2 separate regions of the Homo sapiens genome follow, and region 2 is linked to region 1. The links come from fine-mapping of genetic effects on gene expression. A gene starts in region 1. The other region holds a variant in brackets. All regions are shown on one strand. Distances are from middle to middle.

Region 1 (12,181 bases):
AGCCGGCCGTCTTTCCGGAACCCTCACCTGGGGGGCAGACCAGCCCAAACCCGCAGACCCTGGCCTTCTGCACGGGGACCAGGGCCTGCCGGGAGCCTGACCCCAGAGCATGGCCCAAGACTACAGGGAACCCCACGAAAAGCTGGAGAAAAACACTTGCAGCAAACACTTTTTCCAAAGGAAGCTGGTGGACAAAGGGACAGATAGCCCCCGAAGTGCTCCCCGGACCTGAGGGTGTCTGGGAGAGCACAGCCCCAAACCCACACACGGCCGCTGAGCTGAGTGAGGGGTGTCCCAGAAAGAAACTCTTGATGCTGTCCCTTCCTGTGATCATTTCAGCTTAAAACAGCAAAGAGCAAAACACAACTCCTCCCCAGAGGCTCTCCAAGCCCAGCAACCCCTTCCTGGCCTCCACAAGCTCAGTCATTCCCCAGAACAGACCTCGAGACTCAAAGGTCTCAAGCCCGACCACCTGGCTGGGCACCTGCCTGAAGAAACGCTGCCTGGGGCCAGGGGCAGCCTTGCAGTGACACGGGTCAAAAGCCAGCATGAGGGATCAGAAAACCCCCGTCGCGGACCCTCCACTGGGAAGCGCGCAGAGCTTCCCAACCAAGCGACCCTCAACCCACAGCCCACTGAGACCCACGCCAGCCCACACAGCGCAAGGGCAAGGGGACCTGCAAGACCCCTGGGAATTCAGGCATCTGCAGGACAGAGCAACAACACTGTAACACAACCCAAATTCTCCAGTCACCAGAATGCCCAGACTGCACGTGGCAGGTGAAGAACAGCTCTCACACAGGCAGCCCACCGCCCCTAGGAACAGGACGCCCGGCCCCCTCGGAGCAGGACCCCCGGCCCAGAACAGGACCCTGGCCCCCTCAGAACAGGATCCCGGACCTCTGGGAACAGGACCCCCCCCACCAGCCCTGTTGGAACAGAAACCCCGGCCCCCTCGGAGCAGGACCCCCCCTTGGAGCAGGATCCTGCCACGGCCCAAGGGAAGCACGGCACCACCCTGTTATCAGCCTGCACGGAAAGCGCTTGGCTGACGTTCTGCGGGACAAGGGGCCGCGTCCCAGGCAGCAGGCCAAGCGGCAGCTCCAACTGCCACATTTTGTCTCCGTCTCTGACAGCTGTCTATACTGACAAAAAAATGTAGTCCAATGGAGTCCTACAGCTATCAGAGAACCCGAGGAAGGAGGCGAGCCGACCGGAAAGAAGAAAGAGGGGTGGGAGTGGGGAAGGCTCAGAGGCTCCAGTCTTGGCTAAGTGCTCCCAGCAGCACAATGACCCATCTGTGCCCCACCTGTACCACTCAAAACATAAAGTCCAAGATCAATAAACAGTAGTCCCCAGTTTACACTGAGGCAGAGAGGTTAAGCAACTCGTCCAAGGTCACAAAGCCAGTGTGGGACCGAGTGGGGAGGTGAGACAAGGTCCCCTGTCAAGGATAGCAGCCCCAGGGTCCCTAAGAGGAGACTCGCCAAGCACCCATGCAGCCCACATGGTCTTCCAAGATACAGCAGCAGGAAGCTGGCCGGGCCCGACAGCCACTGGACAGAAGCGGAGGCTTCCTCTGTAACCCCGTGACATGAGGGGGCATCTGGAGGAAGACTGTCTGCCCCTCATGCTGCCACTGCACTGCCGACAGGCCAGAGGCTCAGGCACAGCCGCTGTCACAGGAGGCTTCCAAGGAGAAAGCTGCAGCCCTGCCTCCCACTTGGTTTGGGACCCGGGAACATCTCCGCCCTCTCCCACCTCCCACCATGGGTAGGAGAGTGGCGCTGACCCAGCCCACTCAGGCAGGAGACCCGACCCTGGCCTGGCCACAAACACCCGGAAGGCAATTCAGCCCCCTCCGGCTCCGCAGAGCCCGAAGGCCTGCTGGGAGCAGCAGCCCTGCAAAGAGAGTTCCAGTACATTCTTTGTTCTGCCCTCATCTTCGGCAGATCAAAAATATTAAAATAAGCTACAAAGGAAGTGAAGAAATCAAAACATATCCCGAGAATAAGCTGTCAAGACACGAGTGGGAGGAGCCAACGGCGGCCAGTGAGGGCGGAGGCGGGGCCTCCCAGGCCACTCCTTCTAGGACAAGTAGGGTCTGGGCACTGTGGGTCCACGCCCACCCTGAGACCACACTCCCTTCTCATGTGTCGCTCCTGTGCACACAGAGACACGCACACGGCTGTCCTGAGGAGACTTAAGGGGACCCTGAAGCCCAGAACTCCCAAGTGCACAGTCACAGAGCCTAAAGGGCAGGCACTGAGCGAGGGCAGAGTCCCTGGCCGCCATCCCACGTCAAGAACATAGAGCAGGAGGCAACACGGGCAGGATGGGTGCCCCACCCCCAGGAGCATGAGGAGAGGAAAACCCGCAGGAGCTGGTGAACATTCAGGGAGCCAGGCGGAGGACACCACTGCCAGGGCCAGGCTGTGTGGCTGCCACTCAGGCCTAGAGGACGCAGTCACTCACACCGTGCACGTCGTCAGTATGGCCTGGGAATTGCTTTTTAATCGGTAAATGAAATTTCAGAGCAGTGCTGGGGACTTCAAAAGGGAAAGGCGGCTCGGAGGCATCCGCTGAGATGACCAGAGCCTGTCTGGCCTGTCTCTATGGCGGCCCAAGGACCCCGGCGCTCACAACCACAGGGAGAGAGAAGCCGGGTGGCCTGGGCCCTGCTCTGTGTCAGCTGTGACAACGAGGCCCCACTGGCCACTCCAATGGGCCCCCAGCAAAGCCCAGGAAGACAGAAAGACCACAAGCACACACATGACCCACAGTCGGACAAAAACAAACGCAGACACACCCTGCTCAACCGAGATCCTCTGCCATCAGCTCTGAAGACAGTGACGTGAGCGTGTCCCAGCAGCTCAGGCCTTGGCCACAGGTGACCCACTACGCAGCCTGCACGAGCCCACAATCCCCCCCGACATGTGGCTTCCTCCAGCCACAGGCACTGACGAGGGTGCGGCCACCCCAAAAAGAAAGGCCCCAGCCCACAGGGAGCGCCATCGGGCCCACCCCAACCAACTCCCCGTGTGACACGAAGGGCCCCAGCCTGCTACGTCTGTCTGCAGCTCTGCCACGAGCATCCTTCCCCAGCCCACAGGTCTGCAGGCGGCTGCCACCTGAGCCCTGGCCTGGCAGGGTCAGAAGCGCGCACACACAAACACACACATGCACACACACATGCACCCTCCGCAGCCCCCTCCGAGCAGAGGCGACAGTCCCTCGCTTCCATCCACAGCCCCTCCTCCCCACGATCTGACACTCTGCTGGAGGGGCGCCCAGAGAAAACCGGGCTGGAGCATCTATTCACAGATTTAGAAAAAAAAAGTTTGATGCAATAGCTGAATTAATTAGGCCTCCCAAGAATAGCTGAGCCAATGCAGCATTCTGTGTGTGCAATTTAATAAGCCTGGATATTTAAAAGAAAAGTTACAAATACTTGGGGAGGTACGCAACGGAAAGTTCCTGAGGACCCCACTGAGTAATTTCGGCACCTCGTGGCCTGGGAGCTGCCCATGCCGGATCCCATAGATCCTCCAACTGGCAAACAACAAAGCCAGGCCAGCAGCCTCCCTCTCCGGCGCACCCCTCTGCGTTTCAGAGGGAGAGAAGGAAATGGGTGAGTCCAAAGCAAATCGCAGGCCGCCAGTAACTCCAGCACGCGGGCCCAGGAGCCTGCTGACCAGGCCCCTCAGCCGGGTGCCAAATGGCCCTCACCCCACACGGCGGACTCTGGGATTTGGTCCCTGGCAGGCCCAGGGAGACCAACCAGCACAGTGCTGGAGCCGCCAAGTCTCGGGCCCCTGCCACTGAAGCCTGGACACCTGGCTTCATTTTGTGTCTGTGTCCCAAAACTTCAAGGCACCAAACAGGGAGCGGGAGCCAGTAACAAAACCAGGCCTCGCCTCACCCAAGCTCTGTCTCCTGGGGCCCAAAGGCAGGCAGCCCTCCGTCTTCGAGGCTGGGTGCCTTCGGGGCGAGGACAGCCACCTTCACCCCAACCCCAAGAAAGACCTGGGCCTGAGGCATCCGGGCCGTGGCCCAGCTGGACCTAACTTCCCTGACCTGGGGCAGGCCGCTTTCTCGGGAGCATGAGGCCTGTGCCTTCCTATCTGGGCAATGCCTGTGGGCCTGCGGGCCTTCCCCACACACCAGGCCTGGCCCCCCACCCCACCGCCACAGCCCGCACTCCAGGCTCGTCCTGGGGAACGGGCAGGAGGGCCTTCCTACCAAACTCTCTGGCCCTGCCAGTCGGAACACTCTGAATTTCCCTAAAACAAAGCGAAGACTGGAGACATGGGGCACGGCAGAAGCACAGGTCCCAGCCTTCGGAGACCAGAGCCTGTAGTCCAGAAGGGGCCCCCACCCCAAGCGCATCCTCCCCAGCTCCCAGGCCTGGGGCCACTCACCCGGGGCACCCGCCGCTTGTACTTGTTGCCATAGTCGAATTTCTCCTTCACGTCGTCCAGGCAGCGGCCGAGGCGCGCCTGCTCCTCCTTGCCCGTGTAATCCTGGCTCAGCAGGATGTAGGCCCGCCAGTTGGCCGAGTCGAAGCCCCAGTGGCAGGTCCGGTTCTCCAGGGCCTTGTGCGAGTGCACCACGAACTTGTGCGGCGGGTACATGAGGCGGCAGTCCAGGCACTGGATGCAGGCGGCGCTCGGGCTGCTGTAGAGCTCGGGCACCAGCAGCCCCTTACACTTGCCGAAGCACTCGTGGTACACGCGGACGCTGCGCTCGCTGAGCTCCAGGCCCAGCGCCAGGCTGGCGGCCAGCTCCTTCTTGCAGGGCGGCGGGTAGGCGCCGCCGTAGAGCAGCGCGTTGCACAGGCGCTCGGCGTCCGTCTTGGTGATGAGCCCGCACGAGGGCGCCGAGAAGGGCAGGATGCCCATGACTTTGAGGATCTCCAGCTGGTCGGCCGTGCAGCGCGAGCAGTAGATGTGGAGCTCGTCGCACACCGCGTTGATCTGCTGCAGCGAGAAGTCGCGCAGCACCGAGTTGAGAATCTGCGGCAGACACAGGCGCTTCTCGCCTCCCACCACGAAGCACGAGATGGTCTCGCCTTCCAGTACGGTCTCGCAGCGCTCGGTGGAGCGGTCGGACGGCATGAAGAAGGGCCCGGGCAGCACGGGCGGCGGCGGCTGGATGGCGGGCAGGTGCAGCACGGGCGGCGGCTCGGTGGCTGCGGGCACCGGCGCCGGCACCGCGGCCGCGCCCGCCTCCTTGGCGCTCTCCTTCTTGTAGGCCTCCTGCGCCCAGCGCGCCGAGAAAGCGGCCGGGCCGCCCAGCGAGCTCATGGAGCTCAGGTGGAACTGCTCCAGCGTCTTCTGCAGCCCCGGGTGCGGCTGGAAACAGCCGCGGCCGCCTGCCGCCGCCTCCATGGTGCGCTCCGGCTCCCCCGGCCGCTCCCGCTCCCGCGCGCCCGGGCCCCCCCGGCCCCCGCCGCCGCCCCGCGCGCCCCGGCGGCGCCCGCGGCCCCGACCCCGGCCGCCCCCCGCCGCCGGCTCACGGCCGATCACGGCCGCGGCCTCGCCCGGGGGCGCGAAGGGGAAGGCGGGCGGGGCGAAGGGGTCCCGCCGCTGGAGCCCGCCGCCGCCCGGGCCCGGCGCCACATCCACGCGCCCCGCGCCGCGCCCGCCGCCGCCCGGGCCCCCCGCGCGTCCCCCGCGCGCCCCCCGGGCTCTAGGCGCGGGGCATGCCCCGGCGCGCGCCGCCAACGCCAACGCCAACGCTCGCGGGCCCGGGGCTCGCGGGGGGCGCGCGGGCAGGTGCCGGCGCCGCGAGGCGCGAATCGCCGCGGCGGCCGAGGCCGAGGGGCCCGGGAGGAGCGGGGGCGCGGGCGCGGGGCCCGCCGGGCCGTCCTCGCGCGGCGCGCCGCCGCCGCCCCGCTCCTCCCACCGCGAGGCGCCCGCCCGGCTCGTCCCGGCGGCGCTGGCCGGCCGCGTCGCGCCCGCCGCCGGCCCCCGGCCCGCCCGCCCGCCGGCTCCGCGGCCCGCCCGCCCGGCTTCCGGGGCGGCGGAGGCGCCTCTCGCCCGCGGCCCTCAGAGCGCGGCGGCGGCGCGGGGCTCGGGGCGCTCGGCGCACATCCTCCCGGCGGCTCGCTCCGGCTCGGACTGAGCGCCCGGCGCTGAGCTCACGCCGCCGCCGCGCCGCCCCGCCCCGCGCCGCCCGCTCCGCCCCGCGCCGGCCCCGCCCCCCGCGCTGTTTGTTGCCGTGCGTCCGCCTCAGCCCTAGCGCTGGCCAAGAATGTGACCCGCTCCCCAGCCGGGCTCTTCCAGGAACGCGCGCTCCCCGCCCGGACTCGGCCGCGCTCGGCTCCGCTCGCCCGGGACTCGGCCACGCTCGGACCCGCCCTGCCATGACTCGGCTCCGCTCGGCCGGGACTCGGCTACGCTCGGCCATGCTCGACTCCGCTCGGCCCCGCTCGGCCCCGCCCGCCGAGGGCCGCTGGGCGCGGGCGGAGGCGGAGGCGGCGGTGGCGCCCGGGGCCCCCCTTCCGGCCGAGGCCGCTTCCTGCGCCGCTGGGAAGGCGCCCGTCTCGCCGCCGTCGGGGCCCAGAAACCCACAGGCCCCCGCCACGACCGCAAACCAGCTGGGGGCGGCCGGGGGGCCACGCCACGCACCCGGGGTTCTCCCAGGGTGGGACACCACACAGCGGGGAGGCCCCGGACGCCTCTGGGGTCCCACACACTACCGGGACGCCACACGGTGACCTGGGGTCCCACACACGAGGGGGACAGCGGCCACGCCCAGGGACCCTGCGCCGAGACGGGCACCGCGTCGCGTGACCCTGGCGGCGCAGCCCGGCGGCCCCCGCTGCGCCGTGGCCGGTGGCTCGGTGGCCGAGTGTCCGCGGCTCCCGGCCGCGCCGGCCCCGCCCCGCCCGCCGGCCCCTGGCGGAGTGTCCCTGCTGCGCGGGCCGGGGGCTTCGGGCCTGGGAGGGGCGGCGCCCGGTGCCCCAGACGCAGCCGGTCTGCCAGCCACTCCTGCCAGGTGGCTTATCAGGACTTCGGCCCCGCGGGGCCCGGCGTTCGGGCCGGCGAGACCCCTGACCTCCGCCCCGGGGCCGTGGAGCGCTGAGACGTCTTTCGGGGTCGGATCGGCCGGCCCTCCACGCCTGGCCACGCAGTGGGAGAGACTCAAGCCTTGGCAGGGCGGGGAGCGGGAAGCCCGGGGCCCCGAAGTTGGACAGTCGGCCGGGTGGTCTCCAGGGGAGGCAGCTTCCAGCGAGGCCTGCGGGCGCAGGGACGCAATGGTGTGTTTGGGGAGGGGCAGGGCTCGGTCTGTGCTCGCCTGAGGCGGAGGGACATGCCCCACGGGCCGGGGGTGCCCAAGCTGGCCTGGGTGCTGGGCGGAGGCGAGAGGGCCACGCCGCTGCAACCTGAGTGACCTTCAGCTGGGACCTCCTGCCCCTCACTTCCCCAGTGGAGGCTGGAACCTGCCTCAAACCAGCACTCCTGGGCGCAGTTCCTATCCTGGGGGAGCCGGCCCGGAGTCCCTGTGCAGGTCTTGGCCGGACCTGCGGCAGGGCAGGTGTCTAGAGAGGCAGCCAGGACCTACCTGTAGGTGACCCCAGGGCGGCTCCATACTCCCTCTCTCCGCTGCCTTGGGGGTTGTCTCCTTGTCCTCACACTCCACACTGTCCCCCGACTCTTCCCATTCACTCCGTTGGCCCCCACAATTGGAGGCCAGGCTTTCTCTGTGTGTTCACACACCAGAAAGCTGGGTAAGAAGATCATTTCCTTAAAAGTGATATTTAACCCGGCAAGGTGGCTCACGCCTGTAATCCCAGCACTTTGGGAAGATAAGGCAGGCGCATCGCTTGAGCCCAGGAGTTCAAGACTAGCCTGGGCGATATAGTGAGACCCTGTCTACAAAAAATAATTTTTTTTTTTAATTAGCCGGGCATGGTGGCCTGCACCTGTGGTCTCAGCTACTTGAGAAGCTGAGGTGGGAAGATTGCTTGAGCCCAGAAGGTTGGGGCTGCGGGGAGCCGTGCTTGAGCCTCTGCACTCCATCCTGGGTGATAGGGACACACCCTTTTTTTGAGACAGACCCTGTCTCAAAAAAAAAAAAAGGGTCAGCCTCAGTGGCTCATGCCTGTAATCCCAGCACTTTGGGAGGCCGAGGCAGGCGGATCACGAGGTCAGGAGATCGAGACCATCCTGGCTAACGGTGAAACCCCGTCTCCACTAAAAATGCAAAAAATTAGCTGGGCGTGGTGGTGGGCGCCTGTAGTCCCAGCTACTCAGGAGGCTGAGGCAGGAGAATGGCGTGAACCTGGGAGGCGGAGCTTGCAGTGAGCCGAGACTGCGCCACTGCACCCCAGCCTGGGCGACAGAGCGAGACTCCGTCTAAAAAAAAAAAAAGGATATTCAGTCCAGACGCAGGGGCTCACGCCTGTAATCCCACCACTTTGAGAGGCTGAGGCGGGTGGATTATTTGAGATCAGGAGTTGGAGACCAGCCTGGCCAACATGGTGAAACCCCCTCTCTACTAAATATACAAAAATCAGCCGGGCATGGTGGCACATGCCTGTAATCCCAGCTACTCGGGAGGCTGAGGCAGGAGAATCGCTTGAACCTGGCAGGTGGAGATTGCAGTGAGCTGAGACTGCACCACTGCACTCCAGCCTGGGCGATGGAGTGAGACTCTGTCTCAAAAAAAAAAAAAAAAAAAATAGAAAAGGGACTTATTTGTTTTCCTGGAGATAGTTTCGTTGGCCCACGTTTTGGACAAAACACAGCTAGTGTTGCACTTGACGTTGTCACTTCCTTCCATCTGGATTTGAATTCCATACAACTCAGTCAAATTGTAACTCAGAGAAGGTGGTTGCAGCCAGGCCTGCTGGGAAGTGTCTCCAATCAAGCAGAGAATTCCTCTGGCTCCTCTGGTGGACCAGGGGCTCTGTGCAGGGCCCCTAGCATGGGCAGTGCCCACCCAGAGCCTCTGCTTCCTTCTGTGCCTCTGGCTTTGCAGGGTCCTAGCCAGGGACCAACACTTTGTCCAGAGTGCGGACCCCTGGGAAGTAGCCATAGGTGTGCCATGGAGTGAAGGTGCGGGGACAGGTGAGGGCCTCCAGTTGGTCTCTGAAGCTACCTCCACCTTTGTGGACTCTTGAGACTTCCTTCCCCCAATATGTCAGAGCTTCCAGAGGAAGGCACCCACCCCACCAAGGGTCAGAGCAGCCACGCCTAGAGGGAGCCACCAGGGTCCACTTTTCTTCCTGAGCTTGGCAGGGAAGAGGGTGGGGGGTGTCTCCCGCCTGCTGGCCTTCCACCCTCCAGCCCCGCCCAGCAGCTGCCCAGGCCAGTCGCCCACGCGGGCCACCATACTGGCAGGCCGCGGGTTAAGGCTGCAGGCACAGCCACAGCGCGGAGTAGGGTGGGATGGACGTGGTGCCTGCCCAGAGAAGCCCTGGCATGCGGGCAAAGGCAGGGACCTCCCAGCTTTCTCCCTGGCCCCTACCACGGTGACAGGCTTGGTCAGCTAGTCATGAGTTTGTCCCCTTGTTCGATGAGCTCCTACCACTGTAGACACTGGGATCAGGGTAAGGAGACCAGGTTGTACCCCGTGTGGTTCCATTCTGGTGTGAGAGACAACAGTCAATCAACAAACCTGCTAGTACGGGAGCGAGATCTTTCAGATCCCCAAAAGGCGCGGAGTGGCTGGGGCTGGCTGTAGGCAGGGAGGGCCTCCTGGGAGGCTGGCCTTGGAGTTGAGACCCCCACCTTAAGGAGCCAGCAGTGTGGAGATGAGTTGGATGGCGCCCCAGGACCAGAAAGAGGAAGACACTGGCAAAGCAAGGGGTACCCCAAGCTTTGGGGGAACTTGGAAACCTTGGTGGGGAAATGCATCGCAGACCAGCTCTGCTCCACCCTGCCTTGCCCTGCCCTGCTGCCACCCACTCTCTCCTCCTCAGGAAGCAGAAGGAAGGCCTTGTAGCAGCCAGGCATAGACTGCCATTGGCAAAAACATGCTCAGTTACTGGGAAAGAAACCTTCAAATGTGAAAATAAAAATTGCTCAAGTAACATCAGCTTCGTATAATTTTGTTTTGTTTTTGTTTTTGTTTGAGATGAAGTTTCGCTCTTGTTGCCCAGGTTGGAGTGCAATGGTGCGATCTCAGCTCACTGCAACGTCCATCTCCCAGGTTCAAGCGATTCTCCTGCCTCAGCCTCCCGAGTAACTGGGATTACAGGCGCCTGCCACCATGCCCAGCTAATATTTTGTATTTTTAGTAGAGACAGGGTTTCACTATGTTGGCCAGGCTGGTCTTGAACTCCTGACCTCAGGTGGTCCACCTGCCTCAGCCTCCCAAAGTGCTGGGATTACAGGCTATGCCACCGTGCCCGGCCAGTAGAAATTTTAGAAAGACCTTTGTCTTACTTTGGATTCCCCCAAACATAGGCCCTGAGACAAAGATTTTTATTTTACTTTATTTTATTTTATTACTTTATTTTTGAGACAGAGTCTTCGCTTTGTCATCCAGGCTAGAGTGCAATGGCACGATCTCGGCTCACTGCAGCCTCAGCCTCCTGCATTCAAGTGATTCTCATGCCTCAGCCTCCCGAGTAGCTGGGATTACAGACATGCGCCATCACACCAGGCTAATTTTTGTATTTTTAGTAGAGACGGGGTTTCACCATGTTGGCCAGGCTGGTCTCAAACTCCTGACCTCAGGTGATCCGCCCGCCTTGGCCTTCCAAAGTGCTGAGATTACAGGCGTGAGCCACTGTGCCTGGCCTTTTATTTAATTTTTTATTTATAGAGATGAGATCTCACTATGTTGCCCAGGTTGGTCTCAAACTCCTGAACTCAAGCGCTCCTCCCCTCAGCCTCCCAAAGTGCTGGGATTACAGGTGTGAGCCACCGCGCCCAGCCAAGACAAAGATTTGAGTTCGAGTGCTTTGCTTGGGAGGCGATCCAAGGAAGCACAGGAAAGGGTCAGAGCAAGTGAGCGGGGGAGGGGAAGCCGGGCCCTAAAGAGGGATCTGCAAAGCCTCTTACCGCTGGGCACCTGGAGCTGAATCCTCAGGGCAGAACCCAGGGCTCAGAGCCATCCCAGGGGCTGCCCTGGCCAGAGCGCAAGGGAGTGAGGGACAAGCACTGGAGTGGGGGGGTTGATCCAATCAGGAAATGAGTTTAAGGTAGCAAGAGTCAGGTTTCTCGATGTTAAAATACAGAAAGGGAGGAAGGAAGCATGTGGTGTTGGATTGGAATTATTGATACCTGCATGATCTCATAAATGTCCATATTTATAAAGAAAACTGTTGATGTAAATGTGTTTTGTATAAACATCAGCCCTCACTCTGCCCACCAAGACGAGGGACCCCTCAGCAGTAGTGAGCGCACCAGGAAGCCCAGTCTTGGCTCCCAATTTTCATTCACTGAAGGGAACCAAAGTGTTTTTGTTTGTGTTTTTGAGATGGAGTCTCGCTCTGTCGCCCAGGCTGGAGTGCAGTGGCACGATTTCGGCTCGCTGCAACCTCTGCCTCCTAGGTTCAAGCGATCCTCCTACCTCAGCCTCCCAAGTAGCTGGGACTACAGGCACCCGCCACCACGCCGGCTAATTTTTTGTATTTTTAGCAGAGACGGGGTTTCACCGTGTTAGCCAGGATGGTCTCGATCTCCTGACCTTGTGATCTGCCCACCTCAGCCTCCCAAAGTGCTGGGATTACAGGCGGGAGCCACTGCGCCCGACCAGGAACTGGAGTTCTTTAAAGAGATGGCTGACCCAGGCCGGGCGCGGTGGCTCACGCCTGTAATCCCAGCACTTTGGGAGGCTATGGCGGGCGAATCACCTGAGGTTGGGAGTTCAAGACCAGCCTGGCCAACATGGTGAAACCCCGTCTCTACTAAAAATACAAAATTAGCCGGGTGTGGTGGTACATGCCTGTAATCCCAGCTACTCAGGAGGCTGAGGCAGGAGAATCACTTGAACCTGGGAGGCAGAGGTTGCGGTGAGCCGAGATCACGCCATGCACTCTAGCCTGGGCAACAAGAGGGAAAAGTCCACCAAAAAAAAAAAAAAAAAAAAAAAAGAGATGGCTGACCCCAGGGCTGGGAAGGGAGAGAGAGTAACGACAAGACATAAGGCACACCGGGTCACATGGAGAGGGCACTGAGTCACGGCCTGTTTGCCAAATCAGACAGAATAATGATATTAATAG
Region 2 (12,181 bases), 83 kb before region 1:
CAGCAAGACCACAGCTCAGCAAAGTGCGCTCGGGGCTGACCACAGACCCATCAGCCCCTTCGTGTCCTGCCTCCAGGCCCAGGGGCAGCCGGCGAAGGTCAGGCCCAGGGCCTCCCGGATGACAGAGCCCCCAGCTGGGGCTTGCAAGGGGAGCTGCCAGGCCCAGGGCTGCCGGCCCTTCAGCGAGCCCTGGGGAGTCTGCCTGGGGCCAGGGTGGTGCCTGGCTGCCCTCTTGTCCTCAGCTTGACCTCTGGCGGTGGCACTCGTGAAAATGCTGGACACTCCTTCTCCTTGTACTTCCACCTCCCGCCCACGGCAACCAGAGCCAGGAGCCAGGCTGTGGGGGCTCCGAACACAGCTCCAGGGCCAGCAGGGCCTCCTCAGTCTGTGGCGCCGCCTTCCTGAGGACCCGTGGGGAACAGAGGTAGCTGCCCACACCAGCCCCCCAGCCTCCTTGGCTCCTGAGGTGGACCACAGCCAGGGAGGGCCCCCCAACAAGGGTCCAGGCCCTGCCCACCCCTGCCTTACAGCCCAGGAGTCCCCAGGGGGCAGGCCAGGACTCAGCCCCAGCTCTCTCTGCCCCTGCGCCCAGCTGCCCAGCCCAGTGGCTGCTCCCTGGAAACCCCTCGGGGACTGCATCTTGGCTCCCCAGTGGCCTCAGGGAACCAGCAGCCGTTCTCCGGCCTATCTGCAGCCAGGCCCCGTCCTGGAGACCCTGTCCCGCTGCCCCAGACCTGACCCCACTGGGTCCTCATCCACCCACACGTCGAGCATGTCCCCTGCTAGGGCCCCACCTGCCGGCTTCCATCTGGGGACAGGAGAGAGGACACGCATGGGCTCCACGGTCCTGCCCAGGCAGAGAGAGGCAGGCTGAGCACCACGGGGCTGCTATACCCCTGATGGGGTTAGCGGGAGGGGAGGCTCAGTGCCTGGGAACCTGAGGGCATTTCCTTCCACGGAGCTCCAAGCAGAAGCGGCCTGGGGCGCAGCCAGGCTCCCTGCTAGGAGGGCGGGTTTCAGGCCCACAGCTCAGAGCATGGGTGGGGTGCCTGGGCTGGGGGTCCCTGGGCTGATGGCCTGAGGGAGATAGGAGGCCAGGCCTGCAGGGAGCCAGGGGGCCCGTGAGGAGGAGAGACAGCTCTAAGCGGCAGGCCTCGGCGAGACCGCCTGTGTCTCATGGTCTCCTGTGGTTGGATCCACCGAGTCCCCCAGGTCCCTGCGGGTTGTGGCGAGTGGGCTCACGGAGAGAGGGCGGCCTGCGCCCACCTCCCCAGCAACGACTTGGCGGCTGGGGCCTGCGGGCCGGGATGGGGGGTGTGGTGGTTCTTCCCGGGAACGGACCCCCAACTGAGCAGAACAGGGAGGCCGCGCCCCAGAGAGAAAAGCACCCGAACCCGCCAGGCTGGGACCTTCCGGGAGGGCAGGGTTGGCAGGGACCCCCCAACCCCGAGCTCGGCCGAGCTGCAGTTCCCGCTTCCACCGCTGGGGGTCGCACCGCCGCCCCCGCCCCCGCCCCCGCCCCCACCGTGCCGCGGGCGGCGAAACCCGTGAAACGCGCGCCGCCTCCGCGGGGCCTGGGGTGGGGAAGGGGGGACGAGCGGGGGAAGAGGGGTACGGGGGGGAAGGGGGAACGGGGGGGGCGCTTCCTGCCGCCGCCCTGCTTCCCGCAGCGGCCTCTGGGGGCGGCCGCGCCCACCGACGGGAGGAGCCGCAGCCTCTGAGACCCCCGCACGTAGCCCGCCGGTTCGGGGGCGGAATTCCCACCTCGGGAGCCGCCCCCACGCTGCAGGAAGCTCCCAGGGCCTCCCGTCCCGCCCCCCAGCCCGGGCCTGCTGCTCGGACCAGCCGCCCCCGGGCCGGAAGCCCCCGCCCCACCCCGCCGGAATCCAGCGCTGGCCGCGAATCTGGGGGGCGCCGCCCCGGACGGCAGGGAGGGTGGGGTAGCGGAAGAGGCGGCGGGGGCGGGGGGGAAACTGAGGCTGCGGGGGGGAGCCTGAGGCTGCGGGGCTGCCCCTCCGCGTGGGGAAGTGGGGCCCGGCGCGCTCCGCCTGACTCGGGGCCCCCAGTGCCCCCGGACTGGGAACGGAACGGGCGTCGGGGAGGCCGCCCCGGCCCTGAGGACGCGGCGCGGGGCCCGGGACGTGCACCCCTCCCCACCCCCCCAGCGCGGCTTCCGGCCCGGGCGAAGGAGCGGGATTGGGAAGGTTTCGGAGCCGGCGCTGGAATTCCTGGGTAGTTCCTCCGCCACCGCCCTTCCCCCGCGAGGCCGGCCTCCGACGGGGCCTCTCCAGGGTGAGGGGCAGGCCCTGGCCTGGAGCCAGAAACAGGATTTCCCCGGATGCCAGGACAGCGCCAGGGCCGGGGACAGGCCGGGGCCCCACTGCGGGTTTTCTGTCCTGCGCAGCAGTGACCCCGCAGACTTCGCGCACGGGGCGCAGGATGGGGTAGGGGGCCCAGAGCCTTGGTCTGTCGGACCCTCAGCGGCCAGCGCAGGTCGGTGGTCATTTCGGAGTTCCGGCCACTGTCCTGTGCAGGAGTGACCCTGGAGGCCGCCTTGGTTTGGCCTGGGAGGATTCTAAACACGGAGGGGCCAACACCGAGACCCGAGAGACCCCGGCCTAAACCTGACCCAGTGCCGGCCACACCAGCCACGGCCCTCCTGGCATCCCTGGGATCACAGAATGGGACAGCCTCCCCACCCACAATCCCCCCAGGCCCTGGCGAGGGCAGCTCCTCCGACGCTACAGCCTTTTTCCTAGGACTGTTTTTCCTTAGAAACAGGAAGCTGGGGCATGGGCATCACGTCCCTCGGGTGCAGGCCCCACCAGGGGCAGGGCAGAGTGGGGCTGGACCACAGGGCACACAGTACCTTGCCCAGCTCCTGCCCCAGGGTGGGCACAGCAGGGCGCAGGGCGGTGTCCATCTGCAACTGGTAGCCTGGCCTAACCTGGGCATAGCACCGACCAGGGTCATTTCACCCAGCTGGGGGCATCTCCATGAGGGAGGACACGCAGAGCTCCATCGTCTGTCCCTGGTTCCTGCTTGCCCTCCACCAAGACCCCAGCCTGGCCAGGCCCACCTTGCAGGAAGGGCCAGAAGGTTCCGACAGCAGAGAGGGGGACAGGGCTGTCAGGGAGAATCTGGCAGGGCCAGGCCAGGGGGGCAGCAGCTGGCACTGGCCAGGGTACACGGGACCCTCCAGGGTTCGGGGCTGGTGGCCTGCCCGGCCCCCACCAAGGCCTCTAGACGGCCCTCGACCCTCCACACCCCTGGTCTCTCGTTCTAGATCTGGATGGCACCCAATCCTGGTTTCTGGGCTGAGCTGGGCAGCCAGGAGCCCACCCTTCCAAGCCAGCCAGTTGTATCTCCACGGGGCCTGGGCACTTGGCACCCCTATACCTAAGAGTGTCCTTGGGACAGCTGCGGGGAGGGGCAGGAGACTGGGAGACACTGCTGCCTGGGCTGACCCAGGGAGCCCCTGCCTCCAGCCCCTACCTCCCCACCTCCCCACGGTTCCCTGTCCCTGGAAGTTTCTGGAACAGGCCTCCTTTGCAGGAGGAGCCATGGAGGCCGAGCCTGGGCTGCACTTCTTGCCAGTAAGAGCTGCCAGGCCCGGCCATGGGAGAGAAAGGTCCGTTCCCAGCCCGGCTGGACACCTGGCCCAGCACAGGACACTGCAAAGACAAGCCAGGCTGGCCAGGCTGCCCCTGCCGGTCCTCACCCGCAGCGGGGCCACCTGCTCCAGGGCTGGGTGCCCCAGCCATTGAGGCCCCCACCCACCTGGCACAGGCCAGGCACAGATGGCCATGTGCGTCACTGAGACCGGGGGGTGGCAGGGCTGGGCGGGCATCCAGTCCCCAAATGTTCTGTCCTCACCCCCTCCCCAGGGTCCGCTGTGGGTGGAGTAGACAGGGCAGTTTCTGTGGGGAGGGTCGGGACCCCCCCGGGGCCAACACATCAGGGTCACGACCCCATCATTTCTGGAGGGCAGGCGGCCCTGGCCTGGGGGTGTCCCTGTGGGCTCCGCACCTCCTTCCAGCGGAGGCTCCGTGGGGTCAGAGGCCGGGTCGCCTGGAGCAGGACCAGCAGCTGTGCAGAGGCTACGAGAACAGAGTGGGTGGGGGCTGCCTCTTCCTGGCCAGAAGGAAGTGGGGGAGTCAAAGCAGGTGCTGGGACGTGGGGGTGGCCAGGCCTGGGCCAGGATGGGGTCGGGGTCTGGGCCTGTGGGCTGGGGCAATGGGTAGAGCCCCTCATGCAGCCATGAGGGGGTGTCCAGCTTGGGGGCCCCTGGCCATGCCCTTGGAGCACTGCGCTGGGGCAGGAGGGCGGGTTGGGGGTGAAGTGAGGGAGGAGCCGGGTCCCTGCTTAGGCTTAGGGCTGGGGCCGGACACGCGGGGCTGAACCAGTGGCTGCAGTAACTGGTCAGCAGTCTCCACTCCCCACCTAGGACGTGCTGGCCGCTGCCTCCCCAGACAAGGTCAGGCTGCTCAGCCGTTGTCGGCCCCCTTGACCACAGGCTGGTGGGTGAAGGCTGGCAGGACTGTGGCTCCAGGAGGAGGGGGAGACCAGCACAGCTGAGACCTAAGGACAGCTGTTGGTGACTGAGGCAGAAATGGGTGGGGCACAGGGTGGGGCAGAAACTAGGGAGGTGGGGGAGCCCCCATCCCCTTCCCTGAGCTCATCTTCCCCAGACCCCAGCTCTTGGGGGCTTGGGAACAGGCACTGCCAGGAACAGGGGTACTGGGAGCTGCCCTTCCAGGGAGCTGAGGCTGGAGGGCTAACCCGTGGTCCCTGCAGAGGCCCAGGCAGGTGTGAATGCTGGGAGTCCTGAGCCTGAGGATGCAGAGGTAGGGTGGGGAGGGCCATCTCTCTCCCCCCACCTCTGCCCTCCCCTGGCATGGAGGCAGGGAGCTTCTCCCACCCAGGCCTCCTCTCCCCCAGCACTCAGGAGACCCCTGGATCCCTTCGGAACAGCTTTGGGAAGAGGGTTCTGACCCTGGGTGACGGCTGGCCTAGCTCAGCAGGTGGCCAGAGCCCTTTAAAGCTCTAAGTTTATACCCAAAGGTAAACACCAAAGAGAAGCCTGGGGCAGCTTGGGGAACAACTGAGCCCAGAGCACCGCCCCTCCCTGCCCCCACGTGGCTGCTGGAGGCAGTGCCTTTGAGTCTCCGGGAGGGTCGGGAGGGCCGTCATCAAGCCCTGCGGTGCTCAGCTCCGAGGCAGAGTGCCCATGTGGCCACAGGGACGGTCCTCGAGGCCCACCCAGGACCTCGGCCCAGCCCTTCCCCAACTCCTCCCCACTGCACTGGACCCCGGGCTGGTCCTCTGTGCTCACAACTGACTCAGTCTCAGGGTCCTGCCAGCGGCACTCTGGAGCCGCCCATCCTCTGCCCCCCAGAACATGCACGTGCCCAGGACCAGTCCACACCCACTCCTGCTGTGGCCCATGTTCCCCTCGGCCCACGCCCCTGCCCACTGCCCCCAACACCCAGGGGCCTAGCCTGGATGGAGAAGCCAGGCCCATGTGGAGTGGGTGTTTTGAGGCCTGCTGGGGTAGGCCTGTGTGGTCTAGAGGCCGCCCTGTACCCTCCGTGGGGGCTCTATGAGCCCTTTGGGGCCCTGGGCAGGGAAGAAGGAAGCCCCTATGTGGCAGTGAGGGGAGGGCCAGGTCTGCTCTAGCCCCAAGCTTGGGGGCACTTCCCGAGGGGTGGAGAGAAGAGATGGGGACCTGGAAATTGTGCCGGGAGGCTGGGGGGAGGGGCCGGCTGGAGCCCCTACCAGCCCATGCCTTTCTCGGACCACAACCCAGATGACCTATGAGGGCCTGGATGGGCTGGAGATGCTGGATGTGATGGCCTAAGGAAGCCTAGAGAGGTGGTGGCCTGGCACCCCAGGGAGCCCACCCGGGGCTGTGCCTCCATGAAATTGGCATGCGGCATGGCACCTCCAATCCCCAGAACAGGGGTCTGGGAAGGCCCCCCTGTGAGGTCAGGTGGGGAGAAGGGACCTCTGTGTCTCCCTCGGGGCAGCTCGCTGGGGTCCAGGGTTCTGATGCCACCTCCCCTCTCCCCCGCAAGTAACCCAGGAGCTCCTCAGGGAGCTGGCGATCCACCCCTTGGGGACAGGTCTGTCCGTGCGGGAGCTGGACCTTGGCCAACCGCAGGTGCGGCCTCAGAGGCCCCCGTGGAGGCCCAGCCGGGAAGGCCCCATCCCATCTTCTGTCCTGGCACTGCACTCTGTGGGGCTTCCTCCCAGCCGGCCCAAGGCCACGGTGGCCTCAAGCCAGGGCTCCAGCCACATCCAGTGCTACAAGCAGGGACTGCAAGCTCCCTGAATCGCAGAGGAAACCGTGGCCTTGCCCAGCTCAGAGGGGACGGGGACTAGGTGAGAGGGCAGTTGTGCCAGGGCGGCCGCCTGGACCCCACGTGCCCTCGGGGTCGACGGAGACTCCGAGGCCCACAATCTGACCTGTGACAGCACCCCCACCCACGATGGCCTGAAAGCGAGGGGGTCCCAGCCGCCCGTGTGTGGCCGGTCTGGGGAGGGGCTGTGGTGGGCGCACGCACAGCTGTCCCGCGGTCCTCTCAAAGTCCTTTATTGTACAATGTCATCTGTTTCGGGGTCGGGGAAGGACTAACAGGTACACAGCGAAATAGATAAATATGCCAAGCTCTTTTCTTTTTAAATCAGGCATTTATAAACAAGAAAGCATACATTAATTACATAAAAATAGTTTCCGAGTAGCAGAGTAAGCATCATACTGTCGTTAGCAGCAGCGTGGGGCACGGGCAGGGGCGGGGGTCTGGGTGATGTTAAAGGTAGAGATGGAGCTTTTTCCTTAATTGAAAAAAAAAAGTCATTTGTGACTCCTGACTTAAAGCGAGAACGAACATCTCCCTGGACCCTGGTGGGCTGAGGGAGGGGTGGGGGGGCCGGGGTTCGGACCCACAGGGAGGAGGGGGTGGGGGGGGGGCCGGGGTTCGGACCCACAGGGAGGAGGGGGTGGGGGGGGCCGGGGATCGGACCCACAGGGAGGAGGGGGTGGGGGGGCCGGGGTTCGGACCCACAGGGAGGAGGGGGTGGGGGGGCCGGGGTTCGGACCCACAGGGAGGAGGAGGTGGGGGGGGCCGGGGCTCAGACCCACAGGGAGGAGGGGGTCACATGGGAAACGCACATGGGTTTCTCCGTCTCCCCTGCCCCCCGGCAGGAAAGCATTTTTTTTTTCCTCAGTTAAAAACAGCCCAGAAAACAAGACAACTCTCAGGTAAGAAAAGAGTTTCTGAAAAAGGACCCAGCATATACATGTATAATACAACGGTGAAAAAGGAAAAAGTATTTACAGGTGAACTGTTTTTACATTGGCTAGTTCTGTACGAAAAGCAGACATTACGTGTATGAGTTAGCTGCTCCAGAGATATGAATGTTATTGCTGTTGTTTTTCCCTTCGTTAAAAATCTTCTTTCAGTATAGAAATATAATGAGAATTAAACTGAATACACAATCACTTAGATGAAGGGCCTCACACACAGAGGAGTCAGCAGCCCACACAGCGGACACCTCTTCCCCCTTCTGCTGAAAAGAAACGGACTCGCACCTGTGCCAAGGGGAGCCAGGCGTGCACCCCTCGGGGCCTGGGACCCCTCAGTCCAGAGCAGCCCTGCAGCCACAGCTGCCCCCTCAGGCCCCTGACAGTGGAAGTGACCCTGGTGAGCCGAGGCAAGAGCTGTGGGAACTGCCTGGGAGGGTCCCGAGCTCGCCTGCCCACGTCCGGGTCCCA[C/G]TGACCGCACGGGCCTGGCAGCTGCAGGAAAGGGTGGGCCCAGGTGACACTGGCTGGACCCTCCCAGAGCCGAAGTGGGGAAGGGCTGCCACTGCAGATACAGCGCTTTCCGTTTGGGGCAAGATGGGGCGGTGGAGGCGTGGACCCAACGGTGACCGTCGGGATGGAGCAAGGGCAAGGAGAGGCTCTGGCCCAGACACAGCTTGGAAAAGCTCATCTCCCTCTGGGGTCTAAAAACTCAAAGCAAACGGAGCAAGCCTGGCGGCCCTGGGGATGGGGCAGGGCCTCTACCTCACTGTGATCTTCGACCTGGCGACACAGGACAGCCACACAGAAGCACGCCAACACACTTAAAGCTTTGCTCCAACTAAATCATTTAGTTTCCCTTGAAGAAATAACTGAAAAAAAAAACAACTCTGGTAAAACAAGGCTAAAAACAGCATTCTGCATGTTGCATAACAAAACCGACCCTTTACAAGACACGGTAATAATGCCCGCTGACGGATCTACCTACGGCAGAGGTGTGGAATCCATGCACACAGAACAACCGCAAAGAAAACAAAAGCAAAGAAAATTCCAAACAAACGCTGCATATACATGATGTCCCTTTTGCATTGCACTTTAGAAGGGGTGGGGGGCTTCAGCAGCAACCAAGACCCCCCTCAGTAAACCAAGGGCAAAACCCCGCAGGCAATTCCGCCACCCAGATGCGAGGGCTCAGCAGTCTCTGGTCTTTGCTCGTCACTGCCCCGAGGTCGTCTGTACCTGGGCAAGTAACCTCCACCTTCTGTGAGCGCGTGCAGCTGCCGCGGGTGTTAGAACGGATTCAAGCAAAGAACTCCTGTAAGATCTTCTTATGTAAATAAATACCGTAACTGTAGGATAGGTAGCCGCCTCTTGTCTACTGGGAAATCATTTTTCAAGCTTGGGCATAAGAAACCTTATACAATTTGCATAAACAGGTGAGAGTAAACGAGATTATTTGGAATAAATGCAAGGAACTTATTCTGAGAGTGGCAGATTCAGTCGCTACTGAAGACAGATATCTTGGGGGTAAAAAGACACGAGTCAGGATTTGCTGTACAAGATGCTGGAAGGCACAGAACGACCCCCGAAGTTCAGTTTTTGCATTTTCGTTTTCTTGTGATTCCCTTGTTCAACCAAGCACCAGAGGGGGTTTCTAAGCACTCGAGCACTTCGGATTTGACTGCTCTATAAATCGGTAAAAACCTCAGTTCACTGGGGAATAGAAAGAGAAGGGAAGGTTGTGGACAAAGTGCAGTTCTAAATATACGTTTAAATGAACGAACAAAAAAAAAGAAAGAAAAATTGAAATAATGCTCTTTTGTTCCAATGCTGCAGCCTCAGTCCCAAAATGAAGGGAGCGACGTTTGCCGAACTGAAAAGGGTCGCCCGGTCAGGCGGCACGTGTGCCCGGAGGGGCTGAGGGCGTGACCGCCAGCCACGGTCACCACCCGACGCAGGTCAGTGCCTCGTGGTGGAGGAGCGTGGGCAGAATCACGGGGTGCAGAGGAGCCGAAGACCGTCCCCTCAGCTCCGGGGCAGCTCCTGTGCGGCTCTGCACTTCCTGGTACCCGTGGGGACAGCGCTGGCATCGACGGCGGCGTGGCGGGCGGGGTAGGCGGCAGTAAGGCGGGCAGTGTTCGAGCTCATCTCGCACGCGGCACTGTCCCTGCTCTCCCTGGCAGCAGCAGGAAGACCTGGGTCCTTGTCGCTGAAAAAATAGACTCTGAAGAAAAACCCCTGCTGTCCTCACGCAGCCGCGGGCAGATGAGCTGTGATGGCTTCCCCGGGTGGGGAGGGTGGGGCGGCCGCCACCCCCACTCCGTTGCGGGTCTTCAGATGGCGTCATGTGTTGGGGCTTTTAGAAGTTAGTCATTTAAAAATGTGTTGATTTTCTGAATTTCAAGTCTCCTTACTGGTTTTAAATAGCTTATAACAAAAGTGTAAATGTTAGAATGTTCCAGCAAGCAGAGGACCAGCAGGCCGCCGAGCTGGCCCCGTCTCCAGCTGTAGTTGGGGGACGCGGCTTACTCACTTGAACTTGGCCAGTAGAAAATTTTGCAGTGGGTTCCAAAACTACATGGTTACAAACACTCGCTTGGTAATAGGCACGGTAAGACGTTGTGCTGTGTGGGCTGCAGGGGCGGAGCCGGGCGGAGCTGCACCGCCCAGCCGCGCCCCCCTGCACCCGCGTTGTCGGCGGCGCTGCGGCGGCAGGCACGGAATCTACGGCTCCAGCTCCGCAGCGCCCTCGCTGCCCGCAGCCTCGGGGCGGGCCCGCGGCCACAGCTGTTCCTGCAGCTCCTTCACCACCTTCTCCAGGTGCTCCCGGGCCTCGCGCTCCCGCAGCAGGTCGGCCCGCAGCTGCTCCCGGTCCGCCTCCGCGTGCTGCAGCTTCACCTGCAGGTCTTCGATCTGAAAGGGAGCCGAGTGGTCAGCGGCGCCTGCTCGCTGCCCTGCCCCGGCCCGACGCTGCTTCCCCCACCCGAGGCTCCTGCGCCGCTCCCTGTCCCTCCCCAGTGCCGCGTGCCGGCCCCTCCTCCACCTGCTAGGACACAGGCTCACGAGACGCAGGGCCCAGCAACCACCCACCCTGTGCCCGTCGGGGGGGCACGCACGGAACGTGGTCCCGGGCCTGGCTTCTGCTCCAAGGCCTTTCCGGCTGGGCAGGACTGGCCACCGGGGCCCACGGCGGCTCCACGCCCACCGTGCTGCGTGCCTCAGTCTCCCCACCCGCATACCTGGGCCGAGTACTTGGCGCGCAGGCGGCCCGCCTCGCAGCCCTTGTCGCACACCCGGGCCTGCCGCGCCTGCTCCAGCTCCCGCTTCAGGCGCAGCCGTGACTCGTTGGCCTCTTTCATCTTCTTCTCGTTCTCGGCGCGGAGACGCTCGATCTCCTTCCGCAGGTTACGCTTGGCCTCCGTGGCCTCCCGCAGCTTCTCCTTCTTGGCCACGCGTAGGAACTCCAGCTCCTGGGGGCCGGAGGCGGCTCGGGGTCACTGCCCAGCCGGTCCCAGCACACCCCTCACCATGACCAGCAGTCCTCAGCCCACCCCGTGGGGTCATCTATCTGACAATGTGCCCTGGAGCCCCGCCCCCAGCGCGCCATCAGCCCAACCCGTGTGGTGCCCCGACCCCACAAAGGCTTTTCAGACCCCCATCCGGAGTTTCCGCCAGGCCTGTGGCAGCTGTGCTAAACCTGGGGGCCTGAGTCAGTCACTTGAGGCTGCGGCGGGGCCTCCCCCGGTATCTAGGGCCACGTTCCCCTTGGGGGCAGCAAGCCAAGTAGGCCCTGGCTCCCATCAATGTGAGGAGGGCAGCCTCAGACATCGCACCATCTGAGGGCCCCGGGTCTCCCCACGCAGCCAGATGGACACGTCCATCCGCCCGGCGCCTCCGCAAGCCCCCCCACTCTCCCCATTAAAATATCCGTGTGACTCACACCCCACGCTGCAAACACACCACATGAATATGTATGTGGGAAATCACACCTCCAACCAGAATCAAGGACAACAGTGGCGGGGGACGTGCTGGGGCGAGGGACTGGCACGCGCAGGAGGGCACGTCGGCAACCCTGCAGCTCTGAGGGCCGACGGGGTTGTGTTGTGCTAAAGCCCACGCCGCGGAAGCTGCCAGACGCCGCCGAGGTGTGAATTTAGCGAGGCCGGGGCCCGGTGAACAACGGGCCGCCTGCACACCTCTCTCCCCAGGCAGCTCTGCCTGTGAACCGCACTTCCCTCAGTCATGTCAGAAAGAAACCTAAACAACGTAAAAGGAGGCGCGAGACCGGAGCTGCAGCGTGAGAACCGTGAGGCAGAGCCCAGAGAAGCAGCGTGTGCAGGTGGGTGTGTGTGTGTCTGTGCGGGCCGAGCCCTCTCCTTCCTACTCGGGAGGCCTGGCGGGAGCCGCCTTCTGGAACACCAGGCATTAGTAAGCACGCCCCTCACGCCTGTGTTTTGCAGACGCCAGGTCTTGCTGGCGGAGCGCGTGAACACCCACTCCTGGAGCACACAGAGCAAGGAACTGTCTCCATGCAGCTGCTCCCAACTCTTTCTGCCACTAAAAATAGCCCGGCCTCCCTTATACCAGAGAAACATGGCTACTTCCTCAGTGGGGCCACCACGCAGGGTGTGTGATCCTGATGGGGAAAGCTGTGGTCAAGCCAAATGTAGTGGCCTCCTGGGATGTCCATCAGCCTGGGGACACTGAGGGGCTCACCATACCCAGGGCTGCAGCTTTTGGGAGACGGACCCCCAAGGTCCCAGGCAGGCCCACTGAGGTGGAGGCAGAGAGGAGCGCATGGGGCAGCCAGGAAGGGAGGAGGCACCACCTGTGCCCGTTCACCTGGTGCAGGCTGTGCTCACTGCCCGTGCCCTGGAC

The links. PIP is the estimated chance that this variant, and not a neighbour inherited with it, causes the effect.
Region 2: its variant is fine-mapped to the expression of SKI in whole blood (TOPMed, PIP above 0.99).

The regions. Positions count from the first base shown.
Region 1 is chr1:2,221,976-2,234,156 of GRCh38, reverse strand. It overlaps SKI (SKI proto-oncogene), which reads right to left and starts at 5,838. Exons shown (of 7, transcript NM_003036.4): 1 at 4,422-5,838. The coding sequence starts at 5,390. RefSeq lists enhancers at 2,910-2,959, 2,606-3,267, 7,097-7,917, 9,272-9,772 and a silencer at 6,008-6,777.
Region 2 is chr1:2,304,612-2,316,792 of GRCh38, reverse strand. SKI (SKI proto-oncogene) reads right to left here. Exons shown (of 7, transcript NM_003036.4): 6 at 10,543-10,773; 7 at 6,580-10,216. The coding sequence ends at 10,028. LOC124903824 (a long non-coding RNA gene) reads right to left here and starts at 1,798. Exons shown (of 4, transcript XR_007065362.1): 1 at 1,765-1,798; 2 at 795-847; 3 at 1-401. RefSeq lists enhancers at 732-1,485, 2,966-3,619, 9,506-10,139 and silencers at 1,357-1,646, 1,797-1,956, 2,047-2,166. The variant C/G (reference allele first, on the strand shown) is at 7,778.